Linked DNA regions of Homo sapiens. The protein of the gene in region 1 interacts with the protein of each later gene in a pairwise test. Each region holds a gene or a part of one and is shown in the gene's direction. Other genes may lie near its edges.

What was found. Proteins that work in one complex are often made in the same cells at the same time.
Region 2: the proteins of GNE (region 1) and KRTAP13-3 interact in binary tests that used the Homo sapiens proteins (3 or more experiments, as listed by UniProt).

The regions. Positions count from the first base shown.
Region 1 is NC_000009.12:36,248,445-36,255,479, reverse strand, and holds part of GNE (bifunctional UDP-N-acetylglucosamine 2-epimerase/N-acetylmannosamine kinase), read left to right. Parts: intron 1-6,082; coding exon of another isoform or gene 6,083-6,124; coding exon 6,125-6,288; intron 6,289-7,035. UniProt on the Homo sapiens protein: Bifunctional enzyme that possesses both UDP-N-acetylglucosamine 2-epimerase and N-acetylmannosamine kinase activities, and serves as the initiator of the biosynthetic pathway leading to the production of N-acetylneuraminic acid (NeuAc), a critical precursor in the synthesis of sialic acids.
Region 2 is NC_000021.9:30,424,845-30,430,695, reverse strand, and holds KRTAP13-3 (keratin-associated protein 13-3), read left to right. Parts: upstream 1-4,769; 5' UTR 4,770-4,783; coding exon 4,784-5,302; 3' UTR 5,303-5,316; downstream 5,317-5,851. Other genes in the region: KRTAP13-4 (keratin-associated protein 13-4), read right to left, coding at 1-420. UniProt on the Homo sapiens protein: In the hair cortex, hair keratin intermediate filaments are embedded in an interfilamentous matrix, consisting of hair keratin-associated proteins (KRTAP), which are essential for the formation of a rigid and resistant hair shaft through their extensive disulfide bond cross-linking with abundant cysteine residues of hair keratins.

The DNA.
Region 1 (7,035 bases):
TTTTTAATTTTTGTGAGGCAAGGCCAAGGCAGATGACTTGAGGTCAAGAGTTCGAGAACAGCCTGGTTTAGTTGAAACCGCGTCTCAACTAAAAAAATACAAAAATTAGCCAGGCATGGTGGCGTGCGCCTGTAATCCCAGCTACTTGGGAGGCTGAGGCAGGAGAATTGATTGAACCCGGGAGGTGGAGGTTACAGTGAGCTGAGGTCGCACCACTGCACTCCAGCCTGGGCAACAGAGTGACACTCCGTCTCAAGAAAAAAGAAAAATACTGTGAGGCAAAACAAATCATTCATGGTTTGTCAATTTATATTTATTTTACAAAGAACAGTAAATGTTCCATCTGGCAGTACTAAAATGCCTCGTACTTACCAGTTACTCAAAGGTTATTCTACCTAAACTGAGAGCAAGCTGGCCATATGAGTAAACTGAAAAATAGAACAATGTTACCTAAGGCCAGGTTTATAGACAAGCTTGCCTTCATCTTGAACTCACTGGCAATCTGAGAAACCCAATTATTTTTTTTTGAGATGGAATCTCACTCTTGTTGCCCAGGCTGGAGTGCAGTGGCAGGATCTCGGCTCACTGCAACCTCCGCCTCCCGGGTTCAAGTGATTCTCCTGCCTCAGCCTCCCCAGTAGCTGGGATTACAGGCGCCTGCCACCATGCCTGGCTAATTTTTGTATTTTTAGTAGAGATGGGGTTTTGCCATGTTAGCCAGGCAGGTCTTGAACTCCTGGCCTCAGGTGATCCGCCCGCCTCGTCCTCCCAAAGTGCTGGGATTACAGGCGTGAGCCACTGCGCCCGGCCGAAACTCAATTCTTGAAAGCAGCTTTTTGCATTCTCTCAACTCAAGACTGTCCATTGTAAGTACTGATGAAAAGTGATTGCCTCCTTACAAAAGGAAATTTACTTGCCCCAGGCTGGATTTAAATTTTAATTTTTTTAAAGATAGGGTCTTGCTCAGTCTTTCAGGCTGGAGTGCGGTGGCATGATCATAACTCACTACAGCCTCAAACTCCTGGGCTAAAGTGATCTTCCTGCCTCAGCCTCCCAAATAGCTAGGACCGCAGGTGTGCACAACCACACTCAGCTAATTAAAAAAAATTTGTTTGTAGAGACAGGAGTCTTGCTATGTTGCCCAGGCTGGTCTTGAACTCCTGACTTCAAGGAGTCCTTCTTGCCTCAGCCTCCCAAAGTGCTGGGATTACAGGCATGAGCCACCATGTCCAGCCAGATTTCTTGTTTTTATTTATTTATTTATTTATTTATTTTGAGACAAAGTCTCACTCTTTTGCCCAGGCTGGAGTGCAGTGGTGCGATCTCAGCTCACTGCAACCTCTGCCTCCTGGGTTCAAGCGATTCTTGTGCCTCAGCCTCCCAAGCAGCTGGGATTACAGGCACGCGCTACCATGCCTGGCTAATTTTTCTTTTTCTTTTTTTGAAATGGAGTCTCGATCAGTCTCCCAGGCTGGAATGCAATGGTGTAATCTCGGCTCACTGCAACCTCCGCCTCCCAGGTTCAAGCAACTCTCCTGCCACAGCCTCCTCAGTGCTGGGATTGCAGGTGCACGCCACCACACCCTGCTAAGTTTTGTATTTTTAGTAGAGATGGGGTTTCACCATGTTGGCCAGGCTGGTCTCCAACTCGTGACCTCAGGTGATCCGCCCACCTCAGCCTCCCAAAGTGCTGGGATTACAGGCATGAGCCACTGTGCCCAGCCAAAGTTGAATGTTTTTGCTAAATTTTAGGGCTCTTATAACTCTTTGTATATTTGAAAAGCTGATGGCCAGCAATTTCCAAAATTTTGCACTTTTAGATTTGATATTTCCAATATCTTTAAATGTTCTCATTCTACCATTTGAGTCATAATTAAAAGCATTTTAAAAAGTAAGATTTGTGGCTGGGCGCGGTGGCTCATGCCTGTAATCCTAGCACGTTGGGAGGCCGAGGTGGGTGGATCATGTGAGGTCAGGAGTTTGAGACTGGCCTGGACAACATGGTGAAACCCCGTCTCTGCTAAAAATACAAAAAAATTTGGTGGGTGTGGTGGCGGGCACCTGTAATCCCAGCTACTCAGGAGGCTGAGGCACAAGAATCTCTTGAACTGGGGAGGTGGAAGTTGCAGTGAGCCAAGGTCATGTCACTGCACTCTAGCCTGGGCAACAGAGGGAGACTGTATTTTAAAAAAAAAAAAAAGTAAGCTTTGCCCCAACAGTTTATAGAATATGTTACCAATTTTGTAATATACGTTGTGTATGTGTGTATGTATACACATACATACATCATATATATACACATCATATATATATATATTTAGATAGAGACTTATTCTGTTGCCCAGGTTGGAGTGCAGTGGCACCATCTTGGCTCACCGCAAGCTCCGCCTCATGTGTTCAAGTGATTCTCCTGCCTCAGCCTCCCAAGTAGCTGGGACTATAGGTGTGTGCCACAACACCTGGCTAATTTTTTTTGTATGTTTAGTAGAGATGGGGTTTCACCATGTTGGCCAGGCTGTTCTTGAATTCCTGACCTCTCGTGATCCACCCAGCTCGGCCTCCCAAAGTGTTGGGATTACAGGCGTGAGCCATATATTTATTTATATTATCATAGTTTATCCATGGAAGGACAGATAGGAAACCAGTAACTGCTTCCAGGGAAAAGAACTAGCTAGCTGGGGAACACAGATGAAAAGACTTATTGCTACTTAACCTCTTGTGACTTTTCAATTTTAAACCATGTGAATATACTACCTGATCAAAAATTTAGTTAATTAAAATTATTTTTTAAAACCTCCCCTTAAAAAGGCATTTTACCTTAATTTTATTTTTAAGATTTAACTTCTTTCCTTGAAAAAGCTTTGACTTTTTAAGGTTTTTTAGGTTTCTAGGTAACATTGTTGTATTTTTCACCATTTATTTATATGGCCAGCTTGCTCTCAGTTTAGGTAGAATAACCTTTGAGTAACCTGGTAAATAAGCATTTTAGTACTGCCAGATGGAACATTTACTGTTCTTTGTAAAATAAATACAAATTGACAAACCATGAATGATTTGTTTTGCCTCAGCAAATTAAATATTACCAACAATTTTTTCAGCTCAAATTTGATCACTGGAAGAAGGATTATATACAAGAACACTTACGACAACCATTTTTGGAAGAATATTTTTGTCTCTTTAAAGATTAGATAGTGCGGCCACGTGCGGTGGCTCATGCCTGTAATCCCAGCACTTTGGGAGGCCGAGGCGGGTGGATCATGAGGTCAGGAGTTCGAGACCAGTCTGGCTAGCATGGTGAAACCCCATGTCTACTAAAAATAGAAAAAATTAGCCCAGCATGGTGGCACATGCATGTAATCCCAGCTACTCGGGAGGCTGAGGCAGGAGAATTGCTTGAACCCAGGAGGCGGAGGTCGCAGTGAGCCGAGATTGCACCACTGCACTCCAGCCTGGGTGGCAGAGCAAGACTCTGTCTCAAAAAAAAAAAAAAAAAGATCAGATAGTGCTTGGGTCTTCTGAATATAACTCTCTTGGTGGAATGCCCGTTTCGTTATATTGTAAGTGTTTGCCATTGGGTGAAATTAGCTTTTACTGGGGATTATAAATTCAGAGTGGACCTAATGATGGGACCGTTTGCATGGTCACAGAATTTTAGCCTAAGAGAGTGTTGAGGTACCAACAGCAGAGGGCTACTGATGGAATTTCCAGTGAATTTCAGAGTTTACCCTCATCTAAAGGATGGCACCCCTAGAATTGGAATCCTTACTGAAGTGTCTCTGGATTCCTGATTACAAGTTCTAAATATTGATACACTTACTGAAACATGAACATTGAGATCAGAGTCCATGAGGTGAAATTTTATGTTGATTTAGAGAAGTTTAACATGTTCCAAGTCTGGCTCAGTGGTGTATGCCTGTAGTTCCAGCTACTTAGGAGGCTGAGGTGGGGGGGTTGCTTGAGCCCAGGAGTTCCAGGCTGCAATGAGCTATGATCGTGCTTGTGAATAGCTACTGCACTCTAGCTTGGGCAACATAGCAAGATCCCATCTCCAAAAATGTAAAAACTTTTTAAAAAATTCCATAAAACAAATCTCTTATTCCTTGCCCCTGATTTTACTTTTTGAATGGAGGGTATAGCATGGCAGGGAGGGATGAGCGAGCAGTGGAGCTGAGCAACAGTATATCTGTGAATGGGAGGGCCATAACGCTCAGAGCGAGGCAGCAACTGAGAAACGTGGGGGAGGAGGACCTGAGGTTTGTGTGAAGCCTTTCCAGAAAGGATGACACTTAGATGGAGTTTTGAAGGATGAGTAGAAGACCAGCAAGGAGGAAAGGAAGTTTTAGGAAAAAGTAGGTGGCATCTATAAAGGTATAGATATACGGAGATTCACTAGTTGAACTGGAGGCAGTTTGGTATGGCTGGCACTTTGGCACAGAGAAGGGTAATTTTAGGCAGGGAAGAGATGGTGGAAAGGAAGATCACTTTGAAAGTTTGTAGGAGGCCGGGCGCAATGGCTCTTGCCTGTAATCCCAGCACTTTGGGAGGCCGAGGTGGGTGGATCACTTGAGGCCAGGAGTTCAAGACCAGCCTGGCCAACATGGCAAAACCCCATCTCTACTAAAAATACAAAAATTAGCTGGGCATGGTGGTGGGCACCTATAATCCCAGCTACTCGGGAGGCTGAGGCAGGAGAATTGCTTGAATCTGGGAGGCGGAGGTAGTAGTGAGCCAAGCTCGTGCCACTGCACTCCAACCTGGGCGACAGAGTGAGACTTTGTCTCTAAATAAATAAGTAAGAAAGTTTATAGGAGACAGGCAAACCACTTGACAGCTGTTAAGATCGTCCAGACCTAAAATGAGGGACTGGACTAGGGGAAGTCCTTGTATGGATGAAGAGGAGGAGATAGATTTGAAAGATATTTAGGGGGTGGAATTGACAGCATTTTGGAGATATGGGGTGAAGAACAGAAAAGACAAGGATTTGAAGGCATTTGGATGAATGAAATTGCATAACTCAGAGAACAATTGAGGAGGAACAGCTTCCGAAAAGAAAATGAGTTCAGTTTGGGACACTGACTTTAAGGTGTTTATAGGACATACAGCAGGAGATATCTGATAGGCATTTGGAGTTGTCAGTTTTGTTGGCACTGGTGTGTAGGTACTAATGAGGGCTTGAAGGTCAGGTTTTTATCTTACTCATCTTTCTCCTGCCCAGCATTAATCACAATACCTTGTATTTAGGAAGTGTATAGTGTGAGAGTGAATAGCCTGTGTTCCTTATGAGACATGATCTGGAATGTTGGGGCAGTAATTTTCCCTCTCAAGACCTGTGTTTCCCTTTCTATAAAGTGATGGAGTTGAACTAGATCAGTGGTTCTCAACAACTGATTTTGCAACAACCTACTATGTTGGGCTCATCTGTGAGTTATGGCAAGTAATTTTTAATAATAAAGAGCTGATATTTCCTCACCTTTTAAACAAGAGCTGATTTATATCACTCCTTCTTAATGGCATTCCAGTGTGTTTTCTTGAGTGTGAGAGGATGGGGTGGTGTTACAGTTAGTTTGCTGGAGTTTCTTCTTCTTTTTTTTTTTTTGAGATGGAGTCTCGCTCTGTCACCCAGGCTGGAGTGTGGTGGTGCGATCTCAGCTCACTGCAAGCTCCGCCTCCTGGGTTCACGCCATTCTTCTGCCTCAACCTCCCGAGTAGCTGGGACTACAGGTACCCGCCACCACGCCCAGCTAATTTTTTTTTTTGTATTTTTTAGTAGAGACGGGGTTTCACCACGTTAGCCAGGATGGTCTTGATCTCCTGACCTCGTGATCTGCCCACCTCGGCCTCCCAAAGTGCTGGGATTACAGGCGTAAGCCACCACTCCCAGCCTTGGAGTTTCTTAACTCTGGATATACCAATGGGAGAGTCACACATAAGTGGAGGTGCAAAAAAAGATTAAGAATCACTGTACTAAATAGTGGTTAAGGACTTGAAACTGAAAATTTCTATTTCTGATTTAGAGAAGTTTAAAGTTTAGTTATATCTAGGAGTTATTCTGATTATAAAGTTTTTATTTTGGCAATTTCAGGAACTCTATTTTAAGAACCTCTCAAAACGAAACAAGCAAATCATGGAGAAGAATGGAAATAACCGAAAGCTGCGGGTTTGTGTTGCTACTTGTAACCGTGCAGATTATTCTAAACTTGCCCCGATCATGTTTGGCATTAAAACCGAACCTGAGTTCTTTGAACTTGATGTTGTGGTACTTGGCTCTCACCTGATAGATGACTATGGGTAAGATGAAAGCATTTTCTTATTCTTCATTGCAACAGTGTGCTAGAAGGAGCTTGGGTTTTGTAGCCATATGGGCCCAGCTTCAAATTCCTGTTCTGCTGCTTAGTTTTTATGTGGCCTTAGAGTAGTCACTTAGCATCTCTGAGCCTCAGTTTCCTCATTATATAATGTAGTGAAAACTTATATTGTAAATTATTGTGAGGAATGGAGATCATGATATAGAGCATCCATCACAATGATGCCGCTTAGTAGATGATTGATAAATGGTAGCTATAAATAATATTACTGTTTGTTATTAGTTGTTACATTCAAACAAATGCCACTTATAAATACATATTGTATGAGTATAATAATGTGATTCCATGTAAACTGTTTTGTGAGCTGTAATGGCAATCTTTAAAACTGGTTTATAGGCCAACAGCATATAAAGTAGTAGATATGGAACAAGATTTTAAAAATCTAATCTGCAAGGTAAAGTAGAGAGTTACATTACTGTCACCATTGACATTTATTTTGCTGACATTAGGTTTGTTATTAATCACAGGCTACATTTAAAAAGTGAAAGTTGGGCCGGGCACGGTGGCACATGCCTATAATCCCAGCACTCTGGGGGGCTGAGGTGGGTGGATCACCTGAGGTCAGGAATTTGAGACCAGCCTGGCCAACATGGTGAAACCCTATCTCTACGAAAAATACAAAAAAAAAAAAAATTAGCCAGTTGTGGTGGCGCATGCCCGTAGTCCTAGC
Region 2 (5,851 bases), on another chromosome or scaffold:
TCCAGAAGCCAAGTAGTTTGGGTAGCAGAATCTGGATCCGTAACTCAGGGAAGGAAAACCACAGCCTCCATATTTCAGGAATCTGAAGCCACTGGATCCATTTCCCAGCGAGTAGCAGCACCTAGATCCATAGCCCTGGGAGCGACAGCTGCTGGACCGAAAGCCTAGAGATCCAGAGCAAGTCGTCTGACAGGGACAGCAGAGGATGGAGGTCCTGGGGCGGTAGCAGGATTTCTGGCAGCTGGCGGGCTCCCAGCAGGTCTTCTGACAGTCCCTGTAGAGAGAGGAACGCAGCTGGCAGGTGCTGGGAGAGCAGAGGGCAGTGCTGTAGACCAGGCTGCTGGGGTAGGAGCCTGGGTAGTACAGGTAGCCCCCAAAGGAGCGGGAGGAGAAGTTTCTAGAGCAGCAGTTGTAGGACATGCTGATGAGAGATGGGAGTTCAGCTGAGTGTACCTAAGAAGATTCTGAGTTTTAATGTCGCATCCTGGACAAGGGCATTTATATCCTCTCAGCAATAGGTGTGGTGCCCAACAGGGTCATCCTTTACATATTTGTGATCCCTCATTTACATATGTGTAACTGCGTAATCTTGTCTGTAATTGCATTTGAATAGTTTTCCATGTATTGTATTTATGGGTGCTATAATTTTCGTGTTATAGCACAAAGCCAATGAACTGTACTTATGTCAGAAATGCTATGACTGTTTTATATTAATGTCTAGCTCATCATGACAAGGAAAGCTCTTCCTATTTCTTTGGCACATGCTAACTGCCTCTTTTCCTGTGTATTCACATCTGGCTTTGCTAGTAGATGTTTTCCTCTTAAGAGTGGGGAATGAGATAACGTTAGTTTCTTTCTGGTGCAATTTCCACCTGGATGAGAACCTTTGTGAAAATGATCCATCTTGTCACCATTGATTGCTATACTCCAAAATTACTTTGTGGTGATTTTTTAGGGCGGTAAGAGTAAATTAATACATTAAGTACTACAGTTATAAAGTCTGTCTCATATCCAGTGAAGAAAGATCAAGAACAGGCAAAGCAAAGAGATAGAAAGAAATGGCTAGAAATTGAAAGAAACCTTGCCATTTATTTAAAGACGAGATAACAAAAAGAAGCTCGATTGAAACACAGTCACAGAGAAGATCAATTTGAGGTCATGTCTCTTCAGCCAAAGAGCCCGAATGCTTGTCTGCTGAAGGGAGGAAACAAGTGAAAGAGAAACAAAGAGAAAGCTCAGGAATTTCAGAATTTTTTTTCCTATTGCATTCCAGCTGTCATGTGTCTTGTCTCAATGTCTTTATGAGCAAAAATTTTCAAAATTAGCAAATCTTATGAACTTTGATATATTTATCATCTACTTTTGTAATTATACAGGACTTCTACCTTCTTAGAATGGCTCTAGCTTTCCATATTACTGGCTTTCAGTGTCTTTTTGCCACTTGTAGAACCAGGTACCATCCTACATTTTCCTGTGAAAATGTGAAGTTTCTTTGTTCCCCAGTCCTCTTTTCCTCTGCATGGTATATGAATGTTTCTCTCTTATTTTCTCTCTCTCTTCCTCTGACTTTCTTTCCCTCTATTTTTCTTTCTTTTTTCTGTGCTTAAGTTTGATTTTATCTTTTTTCTTTTTTTTACTTGTTATATTTTATGTTTTGTTCATGTGTTTGTTTGCCTCTGCTGAATTATAGATTCCATGTTGAAAAATAAAAATTGGACAGCTTTGTCGTATTCTTTGAGGATAGCCACTTTGTAAGTTCATTCACAAAATATTCTATGTTGAAATACAAGTAGTTAAATTATATTCAGGACCAAAGAAAGTGTACTGTCATGGTTGATGACATTTTATTTTATAATAAAATATAATAAACTTACAACAATAATGTTAGACATTTTCTCGATTAAATTTTCTCAATTAAAATGTATGGCAATATTGAAAAGTAACTTAATATAGGCCTTCCAGAAGGAAGAATGAAGAAAGAAGCAAATATGGCCAATTCAAATATCTATTCAGTGAGTTACTTTCTATTTTTCAATGGCAGTTGATTTCCCCTAACCTTGTACCTTAGTAAGTAGGTTTGGAAACTATTCCTTCCCCATTTTCTTTTGTTTCAAATGTAACTCTTTAAAATAATCTTGAATACAAAACTTATGAGTTAAATGGAGAGCATGAATTTATTCAGGCAAAACTAAGGGATTTAGTGAATTTGTCTTCAGTTAATCCAGGCTCCTTATTCAAAAATCCTTCTCTGAACCAGTTATTGTGAAAAGAGGTGTTCTTCCCTTCTCTCTGCCTCTAAATCTCTAAAACTTTGTCCACATTAATTTGATAGAAGTTTAAGAAGAACTTGTAAATGCCACAACTTTGGACTCACTTCATCTTGGAGATCATATTATTTGTTCTGTTTAATATGGAGCCTCATCATTGTTGTTTCTTTTTTTGACTGAATTATTTATCAACAATTAAAAATTGAGATCTTTCACATAAAATATATGGCTCAGGGATATACATCAAAAGGCTTCTGATCTTTTGACAGATGATTCTCTTCACTGGGCTATGAATAATGGCTTTGGATATTTGAGATATGTTTTCAACAGAATCTCATCCATAGTTGAAAATTACAACGTTTGGCACCTACCTGCTTCTCTTTTCAAAATAACCAGGCAACTTGTCACTAACATGCTGGAAAATCTTGCTTTCACTAACCATCCAGGTTACAACCTCAATAAGCAAAAGCCAATACTTCTATATAAAGATTGAAAATAGAAAAAAGAGTATAAGCCATATGTAATGTAGTTAAAAAGTGTACCTTGCTTATAATTGGAATCTAAGCAAAAGAAAGATGAGAGGATGGGGCAGAAGCAATATTTGAAGAGAGTACAGTTGGGAATTTACCAATCTTGATAAAAGACATCAACTCACACGTGAAATAATAGGAGAATGGTGTAGATCTAGTCTAACTAAGGTGGAGATGGCTGAAAAAATGAGTTTTAGCAGATATTACCTGGAGACAGTCTGAACATAAGCTCCAAAACTAAACTCAAAAGTTTGTTTATTGTTTCTCTAAATCATTGAACAACTGAAATAATTTTTTTTTTGTTTACCCTGATTGGCATACTCAAGATAAAATGTTCAGTTTAAATTTTTTGCTATCCTTCAAAAAATTGGTTTACTTTTTGTATTAGTCTATTCTCACACTGCTATAAACTACTACCTGTGACTGGGTAATTTATAAAGAGAAGAGGTTTAATTGACTCACAGTTCTGCAGGCTGTACACGAAGCACGGCTGGGGAGGCTTCAGGGAACTTACAATCATGGCAGAAAATGAAGGAGAAGCAGGCAGTCCTACAAGGGAAGCAGTAGAAAGAGTGAAGGGGGAAGTGCTACACATTTTTAAACAACCAGATCTCATGAGAGCTAACTCACTAGCACGAGAACAGCAAGGGGGAAATCCACCCCCATGATCCAATCATCTCCCACCAGGCCTTCCCCAACACTGGGGATTACAATTTGGCCTGAGATTTGGGCAGGGACACAAATCCAAACAGTATCACTTTTTAAAAAGTATAAACAAGATTAAATATTTACAGATTTTCTGCATTTTTTCTCTTTCCAGAGTCTCCCCTGAGAGAGGCTGGGAGAGTTGTAAGATTTGGACATAGGTCTGGCCCAAGTGAAGGAGAAAGAGAAAGAAGTGCTTGAGACCTATGCAGGAGACAGTAGTTCTTTAAGGCCGTTGAGGAAACCCTGAGTCAAAGCTGGCCGTCAATTGTCTTCCAGGAATTCCTATATCCCACTGTGCTCAGTCTTTGCTTGGGAGCAGCCCAGAGAAAGCAAGCCTTCCCCAAAAATGCAGTGTTAACTTTTAGAACACAGCAGGTAGGACCACTGGTTATTTAAGCCTCCTGTAATTTAAGATCCGAGATGAGAATTCTCCAGGCTGCCACACATATGAATGAGAATCTCTTAGGACCATGGGCCTCATATTAGATGCATTGAATCTAAAATTCATTTATTTTTTTCTGTCATTTCAATGGTGTGTGTTTATTTAACACTTTAATTCTCTTCATAAGGCCCCAGAATTGTTTTTCATTTGTGATTGTCTCAGTTCCATCCCTTGCTGTCACCATGTCTCCAAATAATTGTCCAGGTTTCCTTCTGGTCATAGGCATCAATGTTATTCAATTTGTCTTGGCTCATACTTTTCCCTCTACACTGGATGTGAGACACAGTGAGTAACAGTACATAATAGATGAAGGAAACTTTTGTGGAATGAGAAAGGATGGTGACATGTAGGTTTAGTTTTCAGCAGGTTTCTCATTAAGGCCAAAGTTGTGTCTCTAATCCATTGACAAAAAAGACATGTAACTTTATCTCATTTCTCACTGTTTAGGGAAAATTATTGCCCATAACAGCCAATAACAAGACACATGAAAATTATGCTAGGAGGAAAAGGAGGTGCTTTCCTAGACATAATAAAATAAATATTAATACGAAACAGTCATAGCATTTCTGGCATAAGTGCAGTTCATTGGCTTTGTGCTATAACACCAAAATTATAGCACGCATAAATACAACATGTGGAAAAGTATTCAAATGCAATTACAGGCAAGATTGCTGAGCTACACATATGTAAATGAGGGAGCACAAAAATGTGAGGGATGACTCTGCTGTGCACCACACCTATTGCTGAGAGGATATAAATGACACTGTCCAGGATGCCACGTTAAAACTCAGAATCTTCCCAGGTACACTCAGCTGAACTCACATCTTCCCGTCAACATGTCCTACAACTGTTGCTCTAGAAACTTCTCCTCCTGCTCCCACGGGGGTTACTTGCACTACCCAGGCTCCTCCTGTGGCTCTTCCTACCCCAGCAACCTGGTCTACAGCACTGACCTCTGCTCTCCCAGCACCTGCCAGCTGGGTTCCTCTCTCTATAGGGGCTGTCAGGAGACCTGCTGGAGGCCCAACAGCTGTCAGACATTGTGTGTTGAGTCCAGCCCCTGCCACACCTCCTGCTACTACCCCAGGACTCACATGCTCTGCAATTCTTGCCTGACTATGCATGTTGGGTCTCGGGGTTTTGGATCCAATAGCTGCTGCTCCCTGAGCTGTGGATCCAGGAGCTGCTCCTCACTGGGCTGTGGATCCAATGGCTTCAGATATCTGAATTATAGAATCCATACCTCCCCTTCCCAGAGTTATAGATCCAGATTCTGCCATCCAATCTATTTTCCACCTAGAAGGTGGTTCCATTCATCTTGTTATCAGCCATTCTGTAGATCTGGTTTCTACTGACTAATGTGGTGACTGGTAAAACTCATTTGAGAAATGCATATTCTTTAGTAAGGTCATCTGTTAATTTCTTCCTTTGAGAAGTATTCTAATATTATTGATCACCAGGTCTTCCTTACTTTCCAGCCCTCAAAAACTGGGTTGTATGTTAGTTCTGTCAAACTGCAGTTTGGATCAATGAATAATCTATAACTGGATCAATCTGGATCTATAACTCTGGGAAGGGAAGGCATGGATTTTATAATTCAGATATCTGAAGCCATTGGATCAATGAGTGATCCAAACTGCATTATAGATATAATTTATAGTTTTTGTATTTCTTTCCAAAAGAGATAGGAAGTGAAAAAGATTTTATTTTAATAAACTCTTTATTCTTCTGTCCAAATGTGCTGTTAATATTGCTATTTATTAGTAAAGCATTGTCTAGGATGTGCATTGTCATTGCTTCTGGTAATGGGCTTTGCAATGCCCAGATTGTGGGATCTCCACACTAATTTTGGTTGGGCTTTAGATATTTTCCTCCTCTTTAAGCAGGAGTTTCTGGGATTCTCA